7 linked regions of the Homo sapiens genome follow. The protein of the gene in region 7 purifies or fractionates together with the protein of the main gene of each other region. This does not show direct contact. Each region holds a gene or a part of one and is shown on either strand. Other genes may lie near its edges.

The links.
Region 1: the proteins of CLTB (region 7) and AP2A2 purify together in Homo sapiens (affinity purification with mass spectrometry; 2 studies listed by BioGRID and IntAct, with this or other methods). This does not show direct contact.
Region 2: the proteins of CLTB (region 7) and AAK1 purify together in Homo sapiens (affinity purification with mass spectrometry; one large-scale study listed by BioGRID and IntAct). This does not show direct contact.
Region 3: the proteins of CLTB (region 7) and RIMS1 purify together in Homo sapiens (co-immunoprecipitation; one large-scale study listed by IntAct). This does not show direct contact.
Region 4: the proteins of CLTB (region 7) and GAK purify together in Homo sapiens (affinity purification with mass spectrometry; 2 studies listed by BioGRID and IntAct, with this or other methods). This does not show direct contact.
Region 5: the proteins of CLTB (region 7) and CLINT1 purify together in Homo sapiens (affinity purification with mass spectrometry; 2 studies listed by BioGRID and IntAct, with this or other methods). This does not show direct contact.
Region 6: the proteins of CLTB (region 7) and CLTCL1 purify together in Homo sapiens (affinity purification with mass spectrometry; 3 studies listed by BioGRID and IntAct, with this or other methods). This does not show direct contact.

Annotation. Positions count from the first base shown.
Region 1 is NC_000011.10:1,005,870-1,009,304, forward strand, and holds part of AP2A2 (AP-2 complex subunit alpha-2), read left to right. Parts: intron 1-658; coding exon 659-748; intron 749-2,142; coding exon 2,143-2,266; intron 2,267-3,230; coding exon 3,231-3,347; intron 3,348-3,435. UniProt on the Homo sapiens protein: Component of the adaptor protein complex 2 (AP-2). Adaptor protein complexes function in protein transport via transport vesicles in different membrane traffic pathways.
Region 2 is NC_000002.12:69,511,240-69,514,739, forward strand, and holds part of AAK1 (AP2-associated protein kinase 1), read right to left. Parts: coding exon 3,232-3,500; intron 1-3,231.
Region 3 is NC_000006.12:72,246,550-72,250,049, reverse strand, and holds part of RIMS1 (regulating synaptic membrane exocytosis protein 1), read right to left. Parts: intron 2,036-3,500; coding exon 1,923-2,035; intron 1-1,922. UniProt on the Homo sapiens protein: Rab effector involved in exocytosis. May act as scaffold protein that regulates neurotransmitter release at the active zone.
Region 4 is NC_000004.12:929,517-933,727, forward strand, and holds the start of GAK (cyclin-G-associated kinase), read right to left. Parts: upstream 2,801-4,211; 5' UTR 2,672-2,800; coding exon 2,527-2,671; intron 1-2,526. UniProt on the Homo sapiens protein: Associates with cyclin G and CDK5. Seems to act as an auxilin homolog that is involved in the uncoating of clathrin-coated vesicles by Hsc70 in non-neuronal cells. Expression oscillates slightly during the cell cycle, peaking at G1.
Region 5 is NC_000005.10:157,849,146-157,852,645, forward strand, and holds part of CLINT1 (clathrin interactor 1), read right to left. Parts: intron 1-3,500. UniProt on the Homo sapiens protein: Binds to membranes enriched in phosphatidylinositol 4,5-bisphosphate (PtdIns(4,5)P2). May have a role in transport via clathrin-coated vesicles from the trans-Golgi network to endosomes. Stimulates clathrin assembly.
Region 6 is NC_000022.11:19,218,720-19,222,219, forward strand, and holds part of CLTCL1 (clathrin heavy chain 2), read right to left. Parts: intron 3,375-3,500; coding exon 3,232-3,374; intron 2,893-3,231; coding exon 2,658-2,892; intron 1,289-2,657; coding exon 1,166-1,288; intron 1-1,165. UniProt on the Homo sapiens protein: Clathrin is the major protein of the polyhedral coat of coated pits and vesicles. Two different adapter protein complexes link the clathrin lattice either to the plasma membrane or to the trans-Golgi network.
Region 7 is NC_000005.10:176,396,040-176,399,539, reverse strand, and holds part of CLTB (clathrin light chain B), read left to right. Parts: intron 1-1,492; coding exon 1,493-1,610; intron 1,611-1,821; coding exon 1,822-1,933; intron 1,934-3,007; coding exon 3,008-3,061; intron 3,062-3,500. UniProt on the Homo sapiens protein: Clathrin is the major protein of the polyhedral coat of coated pits and vesicles.

The sequences.
Region 1 (3,435 bases), on a different chromosome or scaffold from region 7:
GTTTACTGTTTTCAAAATATTTGAGATTTCCTTTCTGAATTCAAGGGGTATACAGATGTTCACAAAGATTTTTTACTGTGATATAAATAAAAACAGCGACACATCCTAAATGTGCACCTGTGCCGTGGCTGAGCCGCTGCAGTGAGGGCTAGTGTGCAACACCGATGCTGTGCTGGACGCGTGCCCAGCCGGGTCCCCTGACAGGAGGCAGCCGGGGCCGGTGCGTGTGTTTGCATGTTGCAGTCATGGGGCGGGGCCGGCAGAGGCCTGTGTGATTGTGGCGTCCCTGGAAAAGATGCTTGGCAGGCCCCTCCAGCTGTAGCCCAGCCTGCAGACGGGGCGTTCTGTGGGTCCTTCCCCGTGCATATGCGTGTGATCTCACCCATCCCGTGTGGGTGCGCAGGAGGGGCCGAGGGAGGAGGGTGCTGGAGGGCGGAAGTTACCTCTGACTGGAGGAGATACCCGGCCCGTGTTACCAGCACTGGTGTGCTCGTTCTAAAACTGGAAAAAATTTGTTCTTAATTTTAACAACAGTCATACATCACAACAGTGAACTTAAATTCAGCTGAAGATTGTGGGGGGCTCTTGTTTTTCAGGGTAAATATTCAGGGTAAGTGTGAAATGGTGTGTGTGAAAAAATTGTTTTTGTTCCTTCTAGGTCGGATGTTTATCTTTTATGGTAATAAGACCTCCACGCAGTTCCTAAACTTTACCCCAACACTAATCTGTTCAGACGACCTTCAGCCTAATATCCTTGGCTTCATTGCCCCATGCCCGCAGACAGCATAATGTGGGGCTTAGAGGAGGCTTTTGAGGAAGTTTTTTGGTTTTCTTATTTTGTTAAAATAGCGAGATAATTCCAGATGCTATATGAAAATCAGGCAGTCGTAATCTGCCTATGGTGCTGGGCAGGAGAAGGAAAACAGGCAGTCTTCCATATTGGAGAGCCAGCTTTTGATCATGCACCTAAAAATACCGTGTACATGCCTCCTCCCCTTCCATCTGGCCAGTGTGAGTCCCTTTCCTTTTCACCTGCTCTTACTCTCCTGTGACGTGATCTTTAAACCCCTCCTCTCCGAAGCCTCACAGAGCTGCTGCTTGCAGAGTGTGGGAGGCGCCAGTGGGGACTGGAGCGCGGTGCGCACCCCAGCCGAGCTTGTGTGTGCTTCTGGCAGAGCTTTTAGACTGAAGATTTTCCCTTCGTAATGCCAGAAGCGTTCCTAGAACTTCCCCAGCTAAAACAGGGAGACGCTAACGTCTCTACCTCTAAGGATAGGCCCGCCAAATAGAGTTAGCGTGAAGACCCCAGCTTGACCAGAGATGGTGACACCTGGGGATTTATGGTCAGCGACCTGAGTGAAGCAACATCCTCCTTGCCACTGGCTGGTCTGTTCATTTTAACATGAACATGTTTTAATGCAGACTGTTCAAGCTGTTTCAAAACAGTCATTAAAAATACACATGCAGGAGCACCTGTATTAAAGACTTTGTTTGGAATCTGGAGTGGAAGCTCTGACTCCTACTGCGCCCTTCTTTAGGGGTCTCTCCCTCGGGGTCCACTTGGCTCGAGGCGGCAGCGAGCCCAGCAGCTGAGTGGCCGGCGGCACACGACCCAGAGGGAAGGAGAGGCCTGCACCCCGCTGCCTCCTGGACCCAGCTTTGCTGCTGTCACTGTTTCTTCAGGAGAGGCTGTAGGCAAACCCTTGTTTTCCAGCATGAAAACAACCCTGGTCCCAGCAGGGCAGGCTCTTTTCTGTGTCTCGCTGTTTCAGGAGCCTGCTATTCCTGGGATTCTTAAAGTTTTCCTGCCCTACTAAGCACCAGTTTCTGCTAACGGTGACAAAAATTGTGTGTGTAAGACCCAGAGCCGAGGCTCAGAGTGAAAACAGACAAGTAGTATATAATCTAAGTGACTTTTTAAAATGGAGGAGCCATTCTGGAAGCGTGAGAAGCAGACAGTGTTTTGAGGATTGTCTGGGTGGAAGGGCAGGGCCGGGTGGTGTGGCTGCCCTCGACCCGTAGCTGGTGGTCCTAGAGTGTGGTGAGTGTGCTCGCCTCCACGGGTCCTGCTGGGGCTCTAGCCCGGCCCGTTTCCGCTTCTGCCACTGGGACTTGCTCAGCTGGATTCCTTAACGCACGCACACCTGAACCTGCAGACCAAGCCCGTGGACCCGACCGTGGAGGGGGGCGCGCAGGTGCAGCAGGTGGTCAACATAGAGTGCGTGTCCGACTTCACGGAGGCGCCAGTCCTCAACATTCAGTTCAGGTAAGAGCCGCCTGTGCGCCCCGGGCCAAGGGGTGTGTGGGCGCCTGAGCTGTGTGCCTGGGCTCCATGACTGTGCCTCCGTGTCCTTCCTGAGGGGACCCGGGGCGTGCGGGTGCTCACGGTGCATGGATGCGGCCTGAGCTATTGCTGCCCCCGGCTCTGCAGAGCGCAGGAAACAAGGGGAGGCGGAGCCCTGGGCTCCGGGACGGCAGGTGGCAGCTCCCACATGGGGCCTTGCTAGGATCTTTCTGGGCACCATGGGGCCCACCTCATGGGGTGGCAGACAGCCAGGGCCCCCGCGCCACCTGCCCGGCTTGGTACCAGACGACAGCTGTGGGGTGCAGGCAGCTGGTTTCCTTCGGCCCCCTGGCCTGGGGGGCGCGTTTTTTGCTCAGTTGAGCTCAGATCGTACCACTTTGCTTATTTTTTAAAAGCATAGGATTTTCCTGTTGCGACTGTTCATTACTCTCACTTTTCAGTGACTACAAATAGCGTGGATACAGTCAGCCCGTCCCCTGCTGGGTGTCTGCAAGGTTAGGAATGTTGAGAAAAGCACACTTTCTAACATTAAAAAGACAGAGAACTTAAGATTGTATACTGTAGAATTCGGGGACATAGACATGCAAGTTTTTGTTTCATTCTTTGTGCAAATGCCTTTGCCTTTTTAAAGAAAAAACATCACACTATTTGCACAGACTTGGAGTTCTGGGAAACAGATGAATGGGGAGAAGTGAGGCACAGGGACGTCCTGCCTGAGTATGCGGCCCTGGCCTGTCCTCCTGTCTGTGGGTGACACTGGACACTGAGCCACACACGATCCGTGGGGACTGAAGGCTCGGCCCCCCGACCCGCTCTGGTGGGTGGCAGTAGATCGGGACGCTTCTCACTCCAGGCTCTTTCCCGGTCCCTGGGGCTCTCAGAGGAGTAGCTGACTGTCTCTTTCTGCTGCTGCTGCTGCTGGCAGGTATGGGGGCACCTTCCAGAACGTGTCTGTGCAGCTGCCCATCACTCTCAACAAATTCTTCCAGCCGACAGAAATGGCTTCTCAGGATTTCTTTCAACGTTGGAAGCAGTTGAGCAAGTGAGAAACCTGTTTCCTGTAGGGGTCAGGGGTGGGGACGGGGCTCATTTGAAAAGGTGGGTTTTGGTCTCTGGCCTGGCTGAGAACA
Region 2 (3,500 bases), on a different chromosome or scaffold from region 7:
TAGACTATCCAGCTACCTGGGTCAGGATGCTTCTAGCTTGGGATATTGACTGCCCTCATCTTGTCCTCAGGACTTGGAAAATTTATTAAGGTAGACTATGTACACATGTCAGTATTCCATCCACTTAACCAACAGGCTGAATGTTACAATATAAGGTTCTAATATCAATCAGAGGTTAGAAGGGTAACAAAGCTGCCCTGCTGAAGGAGAGGCAGAGTGCTCTGTGAAGACAACCACAGCTCCAGCTCCACAACTTCCTCTGGGGGTCCAGAGTTGTGCCTGTAACAGCTGGCTGAATACTACCACACATAGGGGTCAGAGGGCTTTGAGGATACACTGAATGGGCTTATTTCATGAGACATTCATTAATCTGAAAAGAATACTAAACTGTTGGGTCCCTTTATTTTGAAGAGTCCAGTGACAACTCTATTCTGAGATGAAGGACTGGAGGGAAGGGATGGTGAAATCTCCAGGGCATTTTACATCCGAAGTTGTTTTGTCTCGAGGTTGATGGCATAAAGGAAAGGAGTTGGATAGTTTTCTTACCACTTGGAGAACATTTTTCTCTTCTGTTCTCCAGATGCAGCACACTGAAGATTAGATGCCTCCTTCAGGACACCTTGCCCTATAACAGCAATCTACAGACACTAAGTGGTTTGTATCTGTTCAGCTACGCCTCCCAGCAACCCTGGCAGACAGTTATACTTCCACTTAGAATCAAAGAATGTGAGAGTTTAAAGGGACCTTAGAAAATGCAGATTTCAACTCCTGCACTGAGGCCAAATGCTCATTCAAGGTCACAGGGTTAACTGGAAGCAGAGCCCATGTCTCCTGACTGTGGCTCAGGACTCTTTTCTGCCCCATGATGCCATCCCATCCAAACAGGATTGGAAAGTGGGAGGAGGGACAGAGAGACCACGGGAGAAGGAATAAAAAGACTCAGATGTCTATTTTGCTGACGATTTTTTAAAAATGTAATTATAAAAGGAGTATAATCACATCAAGAAATGTAAGAATATAGAAAACAGACTTCTATTCCATCACTCTAATACAACTAGATACAATCCTTATCTTTTTGGTACCTTATACTTTAAGTCTCTTTTCAAGTGTATAGTTTTTCCGTAATTTCACAATTCCTTTAACATTACCTCATGAGCATTTCTTTTCATACTGTTGTACAGACTTTATAACCGTGCTTTTTAATGGCTGCACAGTTGGGTTTCTCAGCAATTTAGGTTGCTTCCAAATTCTCTGGGCTATTATTAATAAGACTGCAATAAACATCTAGGGCAAATGGCCATTTCCCCTTTGCTAATTATTGCTTTAAGATGGCTACAGGGTACGCTTTACCTTCATTCACTTGCTTCTTTAGATTAGCCCTGCCAAGAGTCAGCGGAGACAAGGATGGGTCAAAGCTGAGAAGCTCTATGGCTCCTGGCCAAAGCATGGTCTATTTCTGTTTCCTCTCTGTCCCCAAAACCAACTATCCCAGAGCAAAGTGTTCAAAGTGTTTTTTCATCCAAAGAACACGGAGAAAGTTCATAATTCATTCCCAAGGGAGTAGACACTTTTGTGTAGGAGAAGCATAGGGGAACCTCATAAGAAGTGTAGTCAGTAGTAGTTGATCATTTTATCACCCTGGATGAGCATTTGTTATAATTAAACTTAAACACAGATCAGGATTCTTTGATTCTTGCCCCAGCTCCACTACCATCAGTTCGTATGTCTTGGGCAACCACTTTCTAGTCTATGCCTCAGTTTCCAATTCTGTAAAATGAGGAGGCTGAACTGAATAATTAAGGTCCCTTCTAGCTATCTCATGTACTAATTTTTTTAAAAACTCTTTTTCCATGAAGAAGAGGAACTTTACCTCTTGTTAAAAATACAGAGACTCACTGTCTACTCCATGCCTGCAGGAAGTCTGAGTTGTTTTAGAAACGAAGGTGTAAAGACACTAAACACACACTTAGCTAAGACTTAAAGAAGACAATCTACGGCACTGCTTCCTTTCGAAGCGATGTAGGTTTTCTGGTTTAAGATGGGAGACAAAACTCTATTAGAAATCAATCCTCAGAAAGATGGTTTCTTTTTTTTTTTTGAGATGGAGTCTTGCTCTGTGGCCCAGGCTGGAGTGCAGTGGCATGATCTCCACTCACTGCAAGCTCCACCTCCCGGGTTCACGCCATTCTCCTGCCTCAGCCTCCCGAGTAGCTGGGACTATAGGTGCCTGCCACCACGCCCGGCTAATTTTTTTTTTGTATTTTTAGTAGAGACGTGGTTTCACCACGTTAGCCAGGATGGTCTCGATCTCCTGACCTTGTGATCCGCCCGCCTCGGCCTCCCAAAGTGCTGGGATTACAGGCGTGAGGCCACTGTGCCCAGCAGAAAGATGGCTTCTTACTTTTCCTTTGTTCCTCTAGTAGTTAGACTTCCCTGGGAGTAACAGGGTAGCTGTGACACTCTACCAGCTGGGTATGCAAAATGTCTTTTTCTAACACCATAACATTTTCTATCACTATCACTCAGAAAAATAAGAGTACAGAAAAAAATCCACTTATCACAGGCCAAAGCATGATGTGCCCGTGTGTGTTGAAACTGTAGAGGACAATCAGACGAGGGGTTCTGATGCCATACTCAGCCAATATCTAAAAGTGGACATGCCCAATTTCTAAATTGATAAGATGGCTCAAATGACTGGATACTCAGATGCTCTGGTACCCAGGGGGATTACACCAGGGTGAATGGTCTCAGGTAAGCAGGCCCTTGACGGGAGCTGCATGGTAAACTTAAATAATGTGATTAGTAATGTCATCCAAGACAAAGAATAAACACAACATGGAGGACCCAGGGCCTGGAAAGGGCACAATGGATCAAACTGCCCCTTGAAGAAGAGAAAGGGATTAGCTTTAATCCTGCCTAGGTCCTTGACTGTTCAAAGTGACACAGACAGAGATGATGAACAGATCTTCCTGCTAGCCTAGTTTCAGAGTGATAAAAATTAAGAAGGCTCTTCATCAGTAGCCTAGAATCCTTTTTTAAAAAAACCTCTATCTTCTATAGAACATCCATACTATTCTTGGATATATCAAGGAAAGATCAAATAATTGAACCACCCAGGTGGGAAAGCAACCTGGACCCTCATCAGCTGCTGCCATCTTTCCCACCCTTCCCCTAGCTCTCGCTGCACATTCCTCTGCTGCTTTTGTGCTCTGAGCTCTGGTTGATTCTTACCGCTGGCTCCTGGGCAGGGGCTGGCTGTGGGGCTGCAGCTGGCTGTGGCTGGGGCTGCTGTCCTGCTGCCATAGTGGGCTTTTGCTGCAAGGCAGCCTGCTGAGTCATCAGCTGTTGTTGATGCAGGGCTGTGGCCAGCTGTTGCTGTTGCTGTTGTTGTTGCTGCTGCTGCTGCTGCTGGTAGAAATTCTGCATTAGCTGCTGTTGAGAGCCTCCTTGGGACACCACAGGGAACTGAGCAATTGCTGGTTTCTGGGTTGCTGGATGTA
Region 3 (3,500 bases), on a different chromosome or scaffold from region 7:
AAAACTAAGGGAAGAGGGAGACATAAAATCATTATTATTGTTCTTAAATGTTAAAAATAAGAGTTTGAAGATTATATGTGTCTAAATTATTATAGCGTGACTAAATGCTTTCTCTGGTGTCACAGGTAGTTAAAATTAAAAAAAACAAGAGTTTGGATATTAGGAATAAGAAATACAAAGAATTAGAAGAGATCATAAAACATATTTACTGTGGGCCTATTTTATACAGGCACCGTTTAGTATTTCCTGGTATTTTTTCTCACTTATTTTTTTATTTTTTAGAGACATGGTCTCACTCTGTCACAGGCTGGAATGCAGTGGCATGATCATAGCTCACTGCAGCCTCAAACTGCTGGAACCAACAATTCTCCCAGTTCAGCCTCCCAGGTAGATGGAACCACAGGTGTACATCATCATGTCTGGCCAGTTTTTTAAATTTTTTGTGGAATCGGGGGTCTTGCTATGTTGCCAGGCTAGTCTTGAACTCTTCAGTCTCTCAAAGTGCTGGGATTAAAGGTGTGAGCCACTGCACCAAGCCGTCATTTAATTTTTAGAATTAAACTATTACAGGTTATTTTTCATGAGAGAAGGAGGAAAAAACTAAGGATACAATACACAAATGACATCTTCAAACTACAAGAAGGCCAAATGATATTTCTATTAACCAAGATTTCATGACAGTAGACCAAAGAATAATGGGGAAGTAACGTACTAAAATCCTATTGTCAAACTCACAAGAATTGGAATTTTATCAGTCATTATTACAGTATCTGCCCTGGCAGTGGTGATGACACTTTAACAATGTTAACTTTAATTTTTTTCCTTTAATTTAGAAGTTACTTTTCATTTTATGTTTAAGTAAGCATATGCTGTTAATAGGTATATGTTAGAACATATTTGAGAGTCATTAAAACAAAATAAACTAATTTAACATAGGATTAGCTTTTCATGGTAAGGAACAGATTAAGAATTCAAACCTGGATCTGTGTAAATCCATTTCTCTGATTCCCAATTGATACCTAAGATGGGGTTTCACAGAACCAGAATGGGTTTCCATCCTCTTTCAAAATATGTGGAGAATATGAGAGATTTACACATACACTGAAGAAAAAGATGGCCGGCAGATAAACCCAAAGGGTATTACAAAGATATTCAATATACTAAAAATAAAAGTTAAAACCATAAAAGCCCTTGAGCAATAAGCTTACATATATCTTCTCTGTCTCATTAAAATCAAGAGAAAACCACAAAGGCAAACCACAGAAATCCACACATTATCAGAGGAGCAAAAGGTCATTATTTGTGTAACAATTTGAAACAAATAGTTTGAAGTCCTTAAATTATAATATCAACATCACATTTTCCATCATAATCTACAAATATATGGTTCTTCATTATCCTTAACCCTAGTTTCTTCACTCCAGGTTTCCCCAGATCACATAATAAGGCAATAGTGAGAAAATGGTAGCTTTTTCAGAGAGCTTTCAGTGGCAACGAAGAGTTTTGCCAAATGCCTTAGGAAGTTAAAAAGAATATTCCAAATTTAGGCTCTTCAGGCTCTAGGCTCATAAGGTTATTACATAAATGGGGTATGAACTCCTAATATTATGTGTAAACAATTATTTACCTTAGAAACTTTTACATAGCACACAAAAAATATGAACTCTTTATTTACTTATGTTACCATTCATCAATTAATGTTCAGAGTATCTGGCACACTGCAAGCACTCAGTAAGTATTTCTGAATAAATATGTGAATAAAGGAATAATAAAAAATGCATGAAAAACTAATGAAGTAGATTATGGTGTTAAATGACTATGTATTTATTGCAGGCTTCAAGGAAAGGCGAACATATTTAAAGACAGACTCAGACAGTGTATGCAAATACTAACAGCCTCCAACATGTACAAAAAATACATACAGAAAGTTGCCCTGGTAAGACTTGTGGGGCATCTTTTAGAGCTCCAGGACTTGTTGGAGAAATAACAGAAATGGAAGGCCTTTCCATCTTCTGAGATTCAAAGGAACTTGAACCTAAAATGAGAAAAAAAAGTAAGTAATATTTGTAAGTGTAGGAAATATTTTTAATAAAATGTTAAATGCATCCTTTATTTGTATAAAACCATAATTACTATCACTGATAACAGAACCTACTTTTAATGGGATAGATTGTCTTTAGTTGTCTATTTAAAAAATATTAAGAATGATATAACGAAGTATTATGCTTATTTCAACTGGAAAGAATTGATCTACATTTCTGGAGTGCATGGTATTGCACAGGCTCTTGCATGACTTCACATATGGGTAAAGGTCTGCTTCAGAGATAAGGAAGATAGTGCCTGTTAACACTAATTATCTTGGCTAATGGATCATCTATTATAAACTGTCCTTACTGAGAAATTAAAATGAATGCATACATAATATAATTTATAAGCCACATCTAAGCCAAGACTTTGCCACTGTTTTAAAATCAGATATACCATCTATCTTAGGTTTTTTTTTTTTTTTTTTTTGAGACAGAGTTTCGCTCTTGTTGCCCAGGCTGGAGTGCAATGGCATGATCTTGGCTCACCGCAACCTCCACCTCGCAGGTTCAAGCAATTCTTCTGCCTCAGCCTCCTGAGTAGCTGGGATTACAGGCATGCACCAACACGTCCGGCTAATTTTGTATTTTTAGTAGAGACGGGGTTTCTCCATGTTGAGGCTGGTCTCGAACTCCTGACCTCAGGTGATCCGCCCACCTCGGCCTCCCCATCTATCTTAGTTTTGATCTTATAAATGAGTATCCTGAACCTCTGAAAATGCTGCTTCAAGTAATTCACCACTAGTGATTTGTTTCAACTTCACATGGAGGAGGCTGGGTCTCCTCTCAGCCACTTGGTGGAGTTCTTCACTGTTCCAAGTATACCCTGACACAGAGAGCAATACAGAGTGTTTATAGAAGGCTATTGATCCAGCAAGTACAACCTTGAACTCACCACCATTCAAACTTAGCCAATGCTTCATTGAGAAATACTGTTTATGAAGCATTGCCTGAGTATGTGCAATCCGCACATTTTTTTCTATAAGTACAAATTAATTCTCATGTCATCCTTTTGTGCCCTCCGAAAACATTTAGTGATAAAAAACAGCTATATAAAATTGTTACTATGTGTCTTTTCCCAGGTATATTTAAAATACATTTTCCTTAAGTCTCAGAACAGGAACACTGTTATTTCTAATAATGCTTGTTTGTAATATTATGGCAATCAGTGTATTTTTTAATCATATCAATAATATAAATTATGCAATTAGTCCCACTTCCCTCTTTGTATTGGTCACCAGAAAGCTCAAAGCCAAAACTGGGTCCACCTCTAGCAGAACATGATGGTATGCATTTTATATGATAACCTAGTGTCTGTTTCCTTGTTTATCCTACTTTCATATTTTCTTCTCCCTTCTAATCACTATCACTGGTTTTCCCCTAAATCACCTTTTATTTTCTATTTCTTTAACTTGG
Region 4 (4,211 bases), on a different chromosome or scaffold from region 7:
CATCTCTGACATGGTTGGTGCTCCTGATAATCTGCCTTTTAAAAAAGTGAAGACTAGCTAGGTGCAGCAGCACATGCCTGTAAGCCCAGCTACTCGGGAGGCCGAGGCAGGAAGATCCAGAGCCCAGTTCAAATCCATCCTGAGTAACAGCAAGACCTCGTCTCTTAAATTAAAAAAAAAAAAAGGAAGATGACAGAACAAATTTGAAGAAATTAGAAAGCTATCTGGTTCCACAGTTCTACCTAAAAACCCATTCACACCACAAGTCCAAATTCCTAAAAGCTATGAAAACCATTTTTTCCTAACTCACTTGACAGCAAATCCTGGTCTATCATAATAACCTCATTTGGGATAAAACCTGACATGAACTGATATGGGGTTAATTACAGACTTTAATTATCCCACAGTGAGAATATTTATTCATTTAATTACAGAAATATTAATGTATTCAATTACAGAATACTTTCCCAAGTCTTCTGGGAGTATCCCACGATATACAGGTTATATGCTGCAATGACCATTCTGAAACCTGAAAAATTCTGGAAGTGTAAACATCTGTACTCAAGGGTTCAGATTACCAGCCATCACCATGTTTACACAAGACAGCCTAAACTCCCATAGCCTATGTTCTAAGGTTGCTGTTCAGACAAAACTTAATTAAGTATGTTTATATAAAATACTTAATTCAGCTTTCACACTCTGTTTCAGTTCAAAGAGGCTTCAAAGTACTTAGGAGGCTGCAGGCCACCTATTAAGTTTACAAGGAGGAAATCTACAGCTCCTAATTGCATTGGTTATTTTTATCTCCTGACTTGCCTAGATAGCAAAGGGAAACAAGTTCTTTTGCACAACCTCAGCAGCTGCCCACATTTCCTTGTTCTTCTTCCTGGGTGCTAAGTGACCCACAAGCTTCTTTCTTTATACGAATCTTCCTCTCCGGGCCCCAGTGAGGGTGCATTCTCCATCCCTCCCACCAAGATCCGTGCCATCTTCTGCTTGGCCCCTTCCCAAAGCTCACACTGTCTGTACCACCCCTAAGGATCTGTCCCTGTGCTGCCTCTGTCTCTCCACCCCTTGAGCACAAGTCTGAAGTTCCAGAAAGCAAGTCCTGTCCACAATAAACTTCTTAAAGAATGAAGATAACCACCTAGTATTTTCAGAATAAATGATTTGATCTGAGAGAAATCTTCCAACTGATGTGAAAGAATATCACACTTCAGCCCCCACTTCTGAAAGAAGAGCTTAGACTTTCTGACCAAATCATACCCAAAATCTGTTTGGTTTTGACCACAATGGAGACAAAGTGTGTGATAATGCTACAGTCAAAATGTCTCCGCAGGCCTTTTGTGATAATCAGAATTCTGGGATAGTCTCCTGTCTGGTCACAGAGCAGGCACCTGGACAGGCTAACCCTCCAGCCCTGAGAGGTACCAGGGAGCTGGTGAGGGTGAGGGCTTTTGTGTCGCTTCACTCCCTCTCCCTGTGCCAATACAGCAGAATAGAGTTACGCTTCCGCACCCAAGTCAACTGTGTTTAGCCCATAAACTTCACAGCCAGTGAAATATGACACACCTCCAGGCACCACTGGACAAAAAATGTAAGGAAAATCCACAAGAGAGAATGGGACCCACTGGCACTGGTGATCGATTCCGTGTGAACGGAGAGGACATCCAGGGAGCTAGAAATAGCATGCAGAGACAAAACTGACTCAAGACTGACTCAAGAGGACTTAAGCCGAGTGACCTGTCCACTCTGCAAGTTCTATATAGGTCACAACCACTGGCTCTGCTTCCTGTACTACACACGGAATCACACGAGTAGATGTTCACCGGGAAGAGAAACACTGAGGTGTTGAAAGACGAAGGGGGATCACGAGACACAGCCCAGTCTACCCTCGGCCAACCCCCCCACCCCCCAGGCTACAACCGCAACTACCTGCAACACGTGTGCACCCACCAACTCTCAAGTTCCCTGGACTGTAGAAGAACCAGCCCTAACCTCCAAAGTCCAGTCCTGTCCCTGCCTGCTCAATAACCCCAGATGTCCGGCAAAAGGCCAAGGCTTAAACCCACCTCCTGCACCGCTCACCTCCTGACTCCAGCTGTCGGCCTTCTAGGCACCGTCCCTCAGTCTCCGCTGTGGGTCCCCACCCAAGCTCCCTGCCTGCCACCATCCCCCACCTCACCGTAACATCTTCCCCCACCCACCCTGAGGGGGTTCCCCAAGCCCCAGGCCTTGCTCCGACTTGACCCTACTCTTATGACAAGAAAGTACCCCGACCCGGTCCCAGCCTCGCCCTCCGCAATCACCGCCAGCAGGCACTCACCTACGCCCGCGCTATGACCTTCGCCTGGCCCTGACCCACGCCCTCGGCAGAGACCCTCCCCTGGCCGACCCTGACCCACGATCCCGCTGGGACCCTCCCCAGCCCTAACCCACGCCCTTCCACTCCGGGCTGACGCTGCCCCCAGCGTCCCGGAGACAACACTCCGCGGCCGCACCCGCGCTGCCGACCCGGGGCCTCACCTTCGGCCAGGACCCGCCGCACCCGCAGCCGCAGCTCGCCCAGTTCCACCGTCTGCCCCACGAAGTCACTCTGGTCGCGGCCGGAAGCACCGCCCAGGGAGCCTGGACCCGCCAAGAAGTCGAGCGCCGACTGCAGCAGCGACATGGCGGTGGCTGCGCCGCACCCCGCGGCAGCCGGAGTGGTCGGGCTCGGGCTCCCGCTCCCTCGCCGTCCGGGTCAGCTCAGCAACCGCCGGCCCGGAGGTGCACCATCTTCCGCCTCGACGCCGTGACGTAGGCGCCCGTGAGGACGCGTCGCGTCAGGCGGCGACCCGGCCTAGCCCCGTCCCCTCCGCCGCGGCCTCACTTCCTGGCTGCGCGCGCAGGCGCGGAGGTCTGACGGAGACAGCGCGTGCGCGGCGTCGCCGGGCTTGCGATGAACTTCCGGCTGTCAAGCTCCCGGCCGGGCTGACTCAAGCGGAGGCGCGCGGAACAGTCGCCGAGGCGATTCCCGCCCAGGTAGTTCAGCGCCCCAGTCCAGCTCCCGGTACCGTTCCCCACATGGTCTGTTTTGTGGGAGGCTCCTTCTCAGGTGTCTCCGGTTTAAGCGCTTCGCCATCCTCTGGGTGGAGTCAGCCTCCCGTTTGCTGTTAGCGCCGCGTTTGCGAATGGGTTCGCGAATTTTTCTCTCAGTTGGCTAAGGAGCAAGGAGTTAGCGTGCGTTAAGCTTTCAGTAAATACTTGGTTTTCGTCTCATGGAGGTCGGAGTTTCCTGTGACGCTTAGTGAGTAAGGTTGGCAGCCCCCTCCCAGCAGCCAGGCAGGCAGTTTGCAGGGGAAACGCTGCTGCATTGCTCTGTCTTCCGAGGAGAGGGCCAGGGTCTGGCCTGGGGCAGTGACCAGTAGTGGGAGCCGTGGGCTAGAAAAACCTTCGTCCTGGGCAACCACAACACTGCAGAGACTGCCCTGTGACCCTCAAGGTTCGTTCTCACCCTGACATTTTCCAAGGCAAAAGCAAATCCTCATGAACCACTTGGAAGGGTTCGTAATGCCCAACTATTTGGAGATGAAATGGTGACTTTCCTTATAGGATAATAAGGAAATGGCTCACAGACAATGCATTTTTAGTTTTTGGCCCACACAGTATTTGGGGGTTGGGAGTGGGTAGCAGGAGGTGAATTAGTTGCTATCATTTAAAGACTGATGCCAGGCGCGGTGGCTTACACCTGTAATCCCAGTGCTTTGGGAGGCCGAGGCAGGCGGATCACCTGAGGTCAGGAGTTCCAGACCAGCCTGGTCAACATGGTGAAACCCCGTCTCTACTAAAAATACAAAAATTAGCCGAGCGTGGTGGCGGGTGCCTGTAATCCCAGCTACTCGGGAGGCTGAGGCAGGAGAATCGCTTGAACCCGGGAGGCGGGCGCCACTGTACCCTAGCCTGAGACTCCGCCTCAAAAAATAAATAATAATAATAATAATAATTGAAAGGCCTAAATGTTAAAAACCTAGTTTTCCAGCTTCTGTGGAAAAATCAAACCTGTCAATATTGGACCCAAAATGATGTGTGTTACCAATTACCTAGAGTGGTCCCTTGAGGTAAGACACAGTCATTTGCCTGACCAGATGGGCTCATGTATGTTACCTGCCTGGTTCCTATAGTCATTTAAGGTTGCAACCCCTTCAACAGAGTTATTTGTTCTCCAACTC
Region 5 (3,500 bases), about 19 Mb from region 7:
CAGCATTGCATGCTACAGAGAAATCATCTGTGAAAGGAAGAATCTATGATGCAGAAAACTTCATTGTTATTTTAAGAAATTGCCACAGCCACCCCAAACTTCAGCAATCCCACAACCCTGATAAGTCAGCAGCCATCAACATGGAGGCAAGATTTTCCACCAGCAGAATGATAAATACCTGCTGAAAGCTCAGATGGCTGTACTTTTTAGCAATAAGATATTTTTAAATTAAGGTATGTACTTTTTTAAACATAATACCATTGTGCATTTAATAGACTACCACATAGTGGAAACATAACTTTTATATGAACTGGGAAACTAAAAATTTGTATGACTTGCTTTATTCCAATATTCACTTTATTGCAGTGGTTTGGAACTAAACCTGTAATATCTCTGAGGTATGCCTGTATAACAATTTTTTTGTTTACATGATGTCTTGTAAAAGATTAGCATAAACTGCTAAATACATATTCTGAAAGTATATCATCTAGATTTAAATCTAGACTATCTTCTAGATGTGCTATCTGTGGCACACTCTTGGCATTCTGTGCCCAATTTCCTCATAAGAAAATTGAACATAACAATGTTGTCACCTTTGTTCTTGGCACATGGCAAATGCTCAATAACTATTAGCTTTTATTATTAGAAATATCTGGATTTAAAGGATATCCTCTGTAATAAATATCAACTTACCAAATTTAATGTATTCATTCAAAAATATTTGAGCGCCTACTATGTGTCATAATTGTTCTAAGAGTTAGTAATACAGCAGTAAACAAAACAAAGTTCCTGCCCTCAAGGAACTTGCATATCAGAGGCAGGAGATGAATACATGTAACAGAGGAAGGCAAGCACAGAAAAAAATAGTGACGAGTGTGAGTGCATACTATGTAATACAGGAGGTCCACTGAACAGAACAGAGAAAGTGAGGGACAGTGGTGGGAGAAGAGATCACAGGCGGGGCAACAAAGAGCCAGATCTGTACAGGCAATTAAGCAATGAGATGAGAAGCCACTGGAGAATTCTGAACCCATTTGACTTAGTATTTTTAAAGAATCCCTCTCGCTGCTGAGTGGACAGCAGATGACAGGGCTAAACATTTTACATGCTTAGTGAGAAACAGGCCATCCTTCAAAGCCCCATTCAGTACCGAACTTATAAGCCAAATACATCAAACTAAGGATATTACTGGCTGGGCACAGTGGCTCACGCCTATAATCCTAGCACTTTGGGAGGCTTGAGGCGGGCGGATTGCCTGAGCTCAAGAGTTTGAGCCCAGCCTGGGGAGCATGATGAAACCCTATCTCTACAAAAAATTAGCCGGGCATGGTGGTAAGCACCTGTAGTCCCTCTTACTTGGGGGACTAAGGTGGGAGGATGGATTGAGCCCAGGAGGTCAAGGCTGCAGTGAGTCAAGATCGTGCATGCCACTGCGCTCCAGCCTGGGTACAAGTGAGACCCTGTCTCAAAAAAAAAAAAAAAAAAAAAAAAAAATTATTTAACCATGGGGGTTTAACTACAAATTAAGACATGTAGTTTCAACCGTATAACCTAAGTCACTTTAAAAAGTGATAAATGAAAAATTAGTATGAGAAAAATTAATAGAAAAAGGCTCAGTATGCCTATTAGCATTGTTCTTTTTTTTAATATTAAAAAAAATTTTTTTAGAGACAAAGTTTCACTCTGTTGCCCAGGCTAGAGTGCAGTGGCACAATCACAGCTCACTGCAGCTTTCAACTCCTGGGTTCAAGTGATCCTCCCATTTCAGCCTCCCATGTAGCTGGGACTATAGGCATGCATCACCATGTCCGGCTAATTTTTTAATTTTTTTGTAGAGACAAGGTCTGTGTTGCCCAGGCTAGTCTTGGACTACTGGGCTCAAGAGATCTTCCCTTCTCGGCCTCCCAAAGTGTTGGGATTACAGTTGTGAGCCACGGCACCTGGCCTTGCACTGTTCTTTAATGATTTACTAAAAATGCATGAAAACAAATGGCAAACAAACAAACAAACAAAAAACCCGAAAATTGAATTTTCAATGCATGCCTTTTTTCTACTATAAAAATATAAGCTATTTGAATGAGAATTCTTGAATGAAACATTTCATTCAATAGTTGTTGAAAAAGCACGCATGTACGTTTACCACATAATGATGAGTGTGTGCAAAATTATAAAAGATTATTTATATTAAAGTTATCTAGAACTTAAATACTGTCCTAAGAATTGAGAAGCTAAATAAAATTCATGTCAAAACAAATATTCTAGGCCAGGCACAGTGGCTCACACCTGCAATTCCAGCATTTTGGGAGGCCACGGTGGGTAGATTGCTTGAGCTCAGGAGTTCGAGACCAGCCTGGGAAATGCGGCAAAACTCCATTTCTACCAAAATACAAAAATTAGCTGGGTGTTGTGACATGTGTCTGTCGTCCCAGCTACTTGGGAGGATCGCTTAAGCTACTTGGGAGGATCGCTTAAACCTAGGAGGCTGAAGCAGAGATGGCACCATTACACTCCAGCCTGAGTGACAGAGCAAGACCCCGTCTCAAAAAAAAAAAAAAAAAAGAAATGAAATATTCTAAAATTGGCTAACTAGACTCTTCTTAAATGAAGTACAAACCATTCATGTGCACTGTTGCACATTAACAAAATCACTCACATTTAATAATTCGTTAGCTAAATCTATCCACAAGTAATAAGTAGCTATAAATTGGCTCAAACATAGGAATATATTACGTTCCTTTACCTGTATTTAATTTTCAGGCAAAAGAGCCCTGGTAAGCCAAATAATTTCTTGCCAATTTGAGGGGTTGAATAACCAGAAAGCCCTTTCTCCAATGTGCTTTCCTTGTATATACTGTTTGTCCATTGTCAAACACCATGAATTTGGTATCACATATTTTAGAGGATTCTTTTTCTTGATATTGTTCAGTCTCTTAAGAATAAATTGTCTGCTTCAATTTGCATTTATGAAATAAATCTTTTTATGTTTTAGTAATGTTTTACATTAGCAGTTACTTTAAAATCTTGAGAATACACAAAACAAGCTGAACAAAATATTAAGAATTGGCAGATGGAATTCGCGATATGTCTTTCCAAAGACTTTATTCCTCAACATGTCTTTTGAAAGGGTATTTCTGCAATATGCTTTGCAATATTAAAGTAGAAGCCATTTATGATTTAGCAAAAATAATACAAGGCATAAACAACAGAGGTATTTAAATTAGCTGTCCTATATGTAGGCTAAACTGAGTCTTAAGAGAGAGTACTCACTGAAAATAATGATTTCATGGATGAAGATATAGTTCCTACATACTTACAAATAACCTAGTCTGACAATGATATCTCTATTTTCACAAACACTGTATTCCTTTGATTTTTCTAGTGTTATACTGTTTTGTGTGTAACAGTAATAACAGTAATAGATGTTTCAAGAGTTTACTGTATGTCAAGTACTATACTGTTTCACATTTAATCCTCATAATCCTATAAAATATCATCTCTAT
Region 6 (3,500 bases), on a different chromosome or scaffold from region 7:
ACTATCTGCAAATGTCTGTGAGGCTATAACTGGAGAGGAGGCTCTTCCACAGGGCTGTGGGAAGCCCTCCCAGAGGCCGAGGCAGACTCCCACCTGCCAGGCCATACCCAATAATGACCCCTGGCCCCAGCACTCTGCCCAGTCTCCAAGGAGGTGCTGGATAGTCACAGGGGCATAAAGAGCACCTCAACAAAGGGAAGTCAGCTGAGACAACCTTGAAAGCTACTTCACCTCTGTCCACGAGGGCTGAGCTGGGCCCAGCATGCAGGCATGACACCAGGTACTCTCTTCCTGGGCTGCATATCCCTGCTTTGGATCCAAGGGCCAACTCTATGCCCTTGGCCAGTTAACAGTTCCAAGTCAGCTTACCCTGGGGAATCAAGCTATTTTTAGGCAAGCTATTTCTGCAGGGGAGAAGGTTCGTAAGGACTAAGATGTTTTATTTATTTATTTATTTATTTATTTATTTATTTATTTAATTTTTTTGAGACAGAGTCTCACCCAGTTGCCCAGGCTGGAGTGCAGTGGCGTGCAGTCTCGGCTTTCTGCAACCTCCACCTCCTGGGTTCAAGCGATTCTCCTGCTTCAGCCTCCTGAGTAGCTGGGATTACAAGCATGCGCCACACAGTGTGTTTTCGTATTTTTAGTAGAGATGGGGTTTCACTATGTTGGCCAGGCTGGACTTGAACTCCTGACCTCAAGTCATCCACCCGCCTCGGCCTCCCAAAGTGCTAGGATTACAGGCGTGAGCCACCATGCCTGGCCTATTTATTTATTTTTTTGAGATGGAGTCTCTGTCTGTCGCCCAGGCTGGAGTGCAGTGGCACGATGTCGGCTCACTGCAACCTCCACCCCCTGGGTTCAAGCAATTCTCCTGCCTCAGCCTCCCAAGTAGCTGGGATTACAGGCGTGTGCCACCATGTGCGGCTAATTTTTGTATTTTTAGTGGAGATGGGGTTTCACCACGTTGGCCAGGCTGGTCTTGAATTCCTGAGACCTCAAGTGATCCACCCACCTCCGCCTCCCAAATTGCTGGCATTACAGGCGTGAGCCACTGCCCTCAGCCAAGATGTTTTAAATTAAAAATGAAACCAGTCACTTGAGCCACAATGATGATCGGACGGCAAAATGCAGGTGTGCAGACATACCCATCTCTGTGCCTCACCTGGTCAATTAGCTGTCTCCTGGATGGGTTGGTCTCCTCAAGGACGTGAGCCCAGAGCTCCGGATCCTTTCTGCATACCAGGTAGCGGGCCTCGCTTTTGAACAGAGAATTCTCATTGCACACCTGAAATGAGCACACTCATGTGTGTGACACAGCAGCCAACCAGCGGAAGCTGCTTGGGAGGACACACCCCAATTCGTTCCCTGTGTGCCTGATACTGGTTTGGTGGACAGTCAGGGCCCAGGCAAGACGCTATGCTTTGACATGGGATGAGCAGCATCCTACAGGGTTAACGATGGACTCAAACTACCTCAAAATGCCCTTTCCAAGTTTACAACAACTCCCAGGGATGTGCCACATATCTGGCCAGTAGGACTTCCTGCATTCAGGGACATGCTCTGTCTCCCATTCTGTCTGATACAGCCACTAGCCATGGGAGGCTACTGAGCCCTTGAAATGTGGTGCGTGACAGGAACTAAACTGGTAATTTTTAATTTAGTTAAATTTAAGTACTCATATGTAGCTAGCTTTAAACCATCTGTAAAATGTTATCAGAACAGCCTAGAACTGGTATAAAACAGCACAAACACTGCAATGTTTCAAGATCTAAAAACTGTAAACTGTGCTTTCACTGGTAGATCTGGAGACCTTTTTCTGAATGTTATAACAGATCTCCAAAACACCAACAGTCCACTGGAATGTTCTAGCGTGTGCAGCACTTGCTAAATCCTGGTGAGGATCAGATCTGTTGAGTGCCAGATGCCCGGCACAAGGCTGAGCGGCGTGCACACGTGCTTGCGGATGCAGCGCAGTCCGCCTGTGTATCACAGGAAAAGCCCAAGCAGGCTGGTGTGGCACCAACCTCACAGGTGCCCTATTCATGTCTGGATTTTTAGATCAAATGATTAGGTAGGAACAGTTCATACAATTCAACCTAAACATGTAATTATATGTGGATCCAAGCCTGGGCAGATGCAGGCAAAAGACCTGGGCAGATGTCTCAAGGAGAGGCCAGCAAGAGCTCATTGGTCAGGTGATGGGGAAGGGCTTGTGTAGAGGGTTACCCCAAAAAGGGGGCATGAAGTACAAGGGTACTCGGGACATGAGGCACCCAGGGAATTGCAGGCCTCTCCAGGTGGGGTGGCAAGATGGATGGCTGATCAAGTTCGGGAGTTGGGAAAGGTGGCAGTCCACAGAGGAGCTCACGAGTCAGGCCAAGGAGTTCAATTCTGCCCTCAAATTGCCAGGCAATAGTAAGGACTGTAAGCAGAGGGATGATAAGTCAGGTTCAGGACCAACTGGTCTACAGGTACAATGCATACAAATTGCATGAGCAAGTTCCCAAAAGCTGTGAGAATCACAAGGAAATAATCTCATGACCTGCCATCTCCAGGTGCACAGAAAGCCCTGATCAGCTCCCCACAGGCACACCTTTGAAAGCTTCCCTGGGAGCCCAGGGTTACATGGGCAGCTCAGCACATCTGCTACCCACCTTGATGAGCTCAAGGTCACACTGCCCCCGCTCATAGGCAACACAGGCCAGATGGGGGTCTCGCTTCTCACAGTAGCGGCCCACCACGCTGCTGTCATAGTAGGCATTCTCTCTCAGGAAGCACTCGGGGCTGTTGTTGCTGTCGATGTAGATTTTAGCCAGTGCATTGTGAGTGGCAGGCTCCTCACAGCCTTCCTGAATCTGGGACTCCAGCCAGGGAAGCAGCAGCTTGAGCCTTTGAAAGAAGGAAGGTGCTGTAAAGTCTCAAGGCTACCACTGGAAGTCTTGAGGGCAACTCCAGGGCTCTGACAGATGTTTCCTGAAACAAAAAATCTCAGAGTCCATTGACTTCAGGTTGCTCTAGGGACCAAGATGGACCTGGTTTCCAAACTGATTTCTACTGTTAGGTTTTCCCCCAAGGTCTTCACAGTACCAATAGCAAGTAACTCATTGCTACATCTAAGATGTGTACATGAACGACCAGCTATAGAGACAGTCCTGGAGAATTAGACAGAAACAACAACAGACACTAGAATCCAGGGGTAAGAGAAAACACCAAGTAAGGACACCTTACCTATTTCTTTTTTCTACTTCAGCCACCAACTCATCAGTAGAGAACTGTCCTCTCACTGCCATGATTAAGTGTTTAATCACTTCCTCAGAACAATCCACATCAAGCAGCCCTCCAATCACAGCTGGGGTCCGGCTAGGGTTGACCTAGGGTAGTCAAGGTCAAGTAACTTCAGTGTTGCAAACACAAGTTATTGTTAGAAGCCTCCTACGACGTGGACAGTTTGGGCAAAACCCTGAAAGGGCTCCTGTTTAGCACTGCGCTGTGTCCCA
Region 7 (3,500 bases):
AAACTCCTGGCCTCAAGTGATCCTCCTGCCTTGGCCTCCCGAAGTGCTGGGATTATAGGCATGAGCTACCATGCCCAGCCCCATTTTTCAAATGAGAAAACAAAAGTCAGGCAAGGTTAAGCAATTTCTCCCAGGCCTTACAAACATTTCATAGTATCAGAGGTGGCATCTGAACCGAGACAGCCTGGCTGCAGAGTCCAAGTTCTTTCCCATGGTGTGATCTGAGCTATGATCATGCTGCATATCTCAGGGATGCTTCTCTACTCAACAAACATCTACTGAGCATCTGCTGGGCCAGGCACTGTGCTGGGCTCTGGGGACATAGCAGTGAAAAGGACAGAGATGACATTCTGATGGCAGAGACAGACAAACACATTATAAAGTAAGGTCCTTTTGGGCTGGTCACGGTGGCTCAAGCCTGTAATCCCAGCACTTGGGGAGGCCGAGGCCGGTGGATCACCTGAGGTCGGGAGTTCGAGATCAGCCTGACCAACATGGAGAAACCCCGTCTCTACTAAAACTACAAAAAATTAGCCGGGTGTCGTGACGTGTGCCTGTAATCCCAGCTACTCAGGAGGCTGAGGTAGGAAAATCGCTTGAACCTGGGAGGCAGAGGTTGCAGTGAACCAACATTGCACCATTGCACTCCAGCCTGGGAAACAGAGGGACACTCCATCTCAAAAAAAAAGTGAGGTCTTGAGGTCTTTTTGGACTAAGTGTTAGGAGTTAATACAACCACAATAGAGAGTGATTTTAATGACGGTAACACAAGGGACTCACTGTGCCAAGCAGTATTTTTATTTTTTATTTTTATTTGTTTATTTTTTGAGACGGGGTTTTGCTCTTGTTGCCCAGGCTGGAGTGCAATGGTGTGATCTCGGCTCACTGCAACCTCTGCCTCCCGGGTTCAAGTGATTCTCCTGCCTCAGCCTCCGGAGTAGCTGGGATTACAGGCATGCACCACCACGCCTGGCTAATTTTTTGTATTTTTAGTAGAGTCGGGATTTCTCCATGTTGGTCAGGCTGGTCTTGAACTCCCAACCTCAGGTGATTTGCCGCCTCGGCCTCCCAAAGTGTTGGGATTACAGGTGTGAGCCACTGCGCCCGACATTCTTTATAATTTTTAACTCATTTCATCCTTATGTCCTCCCATCAGAGTGCATACTGTTATTTAGCCCATTTTATGACAAAGAAAGTGGCTGGCACACGCTTTCTTGAGTCTTCTGCTTTGGGGGTATCAAAACCTATAACTGGGCCAGAGGCAATGATCAGGCACAGAGAGGGTGAGTAACTTGCCCGCAGTCACACAGGTGGCGGAGTGTTGCTGGCAGAGGGAACAGCAAGTGCAAAGATAGGTGTAGTCACCAGAGACAGTGGGTATGAGGTTGTTTGAGGCTGAGTTATCCAGACATGAGTGGGTCCCCAGCAGGGGCAGCAGAGACAGCGGGGCAGGTGTGCTGGCTGGATAGACTGCTGCGTGTTTGTGTTCTAGGAGGCCAACGGTCCTGCTGATGGCTACGCAGCCATTGCCCAGGCTGACAGGCTGACCCAGGAGCCTGAGAGCATCCGCAAGTGGCGAGAGGAGCAGAGGAAACGGCTGCAAGAGCTGGGTGAGGGCGGGGCTGAGGCGGGGTTGGCTGGGTGGGCTGTGTGTGGGGTGGAGTGTGGGGAGTCCTCGGAGTGCATGGGATGCTGCATGCCTTAATGTGGGACTGGGCCGGTGCGGCCCTGTGGCTGCCTGGCAGGGGCCAGGGGAGGAGCGCGGCCGGGCCTGTGCATCCCAGCTGGAAAGCAGCCACTCATTCTCTTGTGGGGTCCTAGATGCTGCATCTAAGGTCACGGAACAGGAATGGCGGGAGAAGGCCAAGAAGGACCTGGAGGAGTGGAACCAGCGCCAGAGTGAACAAGTAGAGAAGAACAAGATCAACAACCGGTGAGAGGGCTGTAGGGACATGAGGGGGCCATGGGGACATGAGGGGGGCTGTGGGGACATGAGGGGGCCGTGGGGACATGAGGGGGCCATGGGGACATGAAGGGGTGGGGACATGAGGGAGCTGTGGGGACATGAGGGGGCCGTGGGGACATGAGACGGGCTGTGGGGACATGAGGGAGCTGTGGGGACATGAGAGGGGCTGTGGGGACATGAGAGGGAGCTGTGGGGACATGAGAGGGAGCTGTGGGGACATGAGAGGGGCTGTGGGGACATGAGAGGGGCTATGGGGACATGAGAGGGGCTGTGGGGACATGACTGAACACTGCCCAGTGCTCCCTGCCTTTGAGGCTCTGTCCTTCACGGTACAAGGTCTTCCAGGAAGGGAAAGGCCTGTTCTGGGAAGCTACCCTTCTGTCTAGGGAACTGCTGCATGCCAGGCTCTGGGGTAGGCACGGAGGAGATGGAGATAAGGAGGACCCAGCCTTATGTCCTCAAAGGGCGCAGAGGAGAAAAACACACATGTTCAACTAAGCTCAAATACAGTAGGGCCCTCTGCACGAAGGCCATGGAAGCAAGGAAACAGGTCAGGGAGAGACCTCTGTGTCTTGGGACTTGGGCTTTGGAAGATGACTAGGAGGAAAAAAGGGAAAAAAGGGCAGGAGGTAGGGGGGCATTCTAGACCTGGGTACGAAGAAAAAAATGTGATGTATTAGGCAACAGGGGGCCAGGGAGCGGTGGGAGAGAAGGCAGGAACCTGTGGACTCACACTGTAAGGGCCTTGGCTGATGAGTTGGGCAGTGACATGGGCAGTGGGGAGCCACTGAAGGTGTTTGAACAGGAGTAACATGATCAGGGATGAATTTTAGAGAAGGTGCTGGGGCCAGGGTGAAGGTCCCCATTCTCCTGTTTGGGGCTGTGGGTCGTTGCTGAGCCTTCCAGAACTATGCTTCCTAACATTTCTCCCACTGGAGGTACTAATGCTGTCTCTCTCTCTCTCTCTAACCTTCTGCCTGCCTGTCTGTCTTGCCATCTGCCTTCCCCCACCTAACCCCTTCCCTCAACCTTTCCCTCAAGGATCGCTGACAAAGCATTCTACCAGCAGCCAGATGCTGATATCATCGGCTACGTGTACGTGTCTGTTTTGCTTCTCTGTTGGGGGAGCTAGAGAGGGAATGGCCACCACAGTTTCTTGAGTTTCCTGCTTGTGGGATATAAATGAGTGTGGCTGGGCTCGGAGCAATGGTCAGAACAGGAGGCAAATGCCCTGGTGGGTGCAGGCAGCAACCACCTCCCTCCCTCCAGTGAAGTGGAGGCTGCTTGGCTAAATCAGAGCCTTGCAGGATAAAGGCAGAGAAAGGAATGTGCTTGCCACTTATTCCCATGTGGGAGGGGCAAATGGCAGAGCACCCCAACTCCCTCCCTCTGTGATGTCTCTTGGTGGGTGTGTGGGGTGAAGGGTTTTTTGTTTTTTGAGATGGAGTTTCGCTCTTGCTGCTCAGGATGGAGTGCAGTGCTGCGATCTCGGCTCACTGCGACCTCCACCTCCTGGGTTCAAGCGATTCTCCTG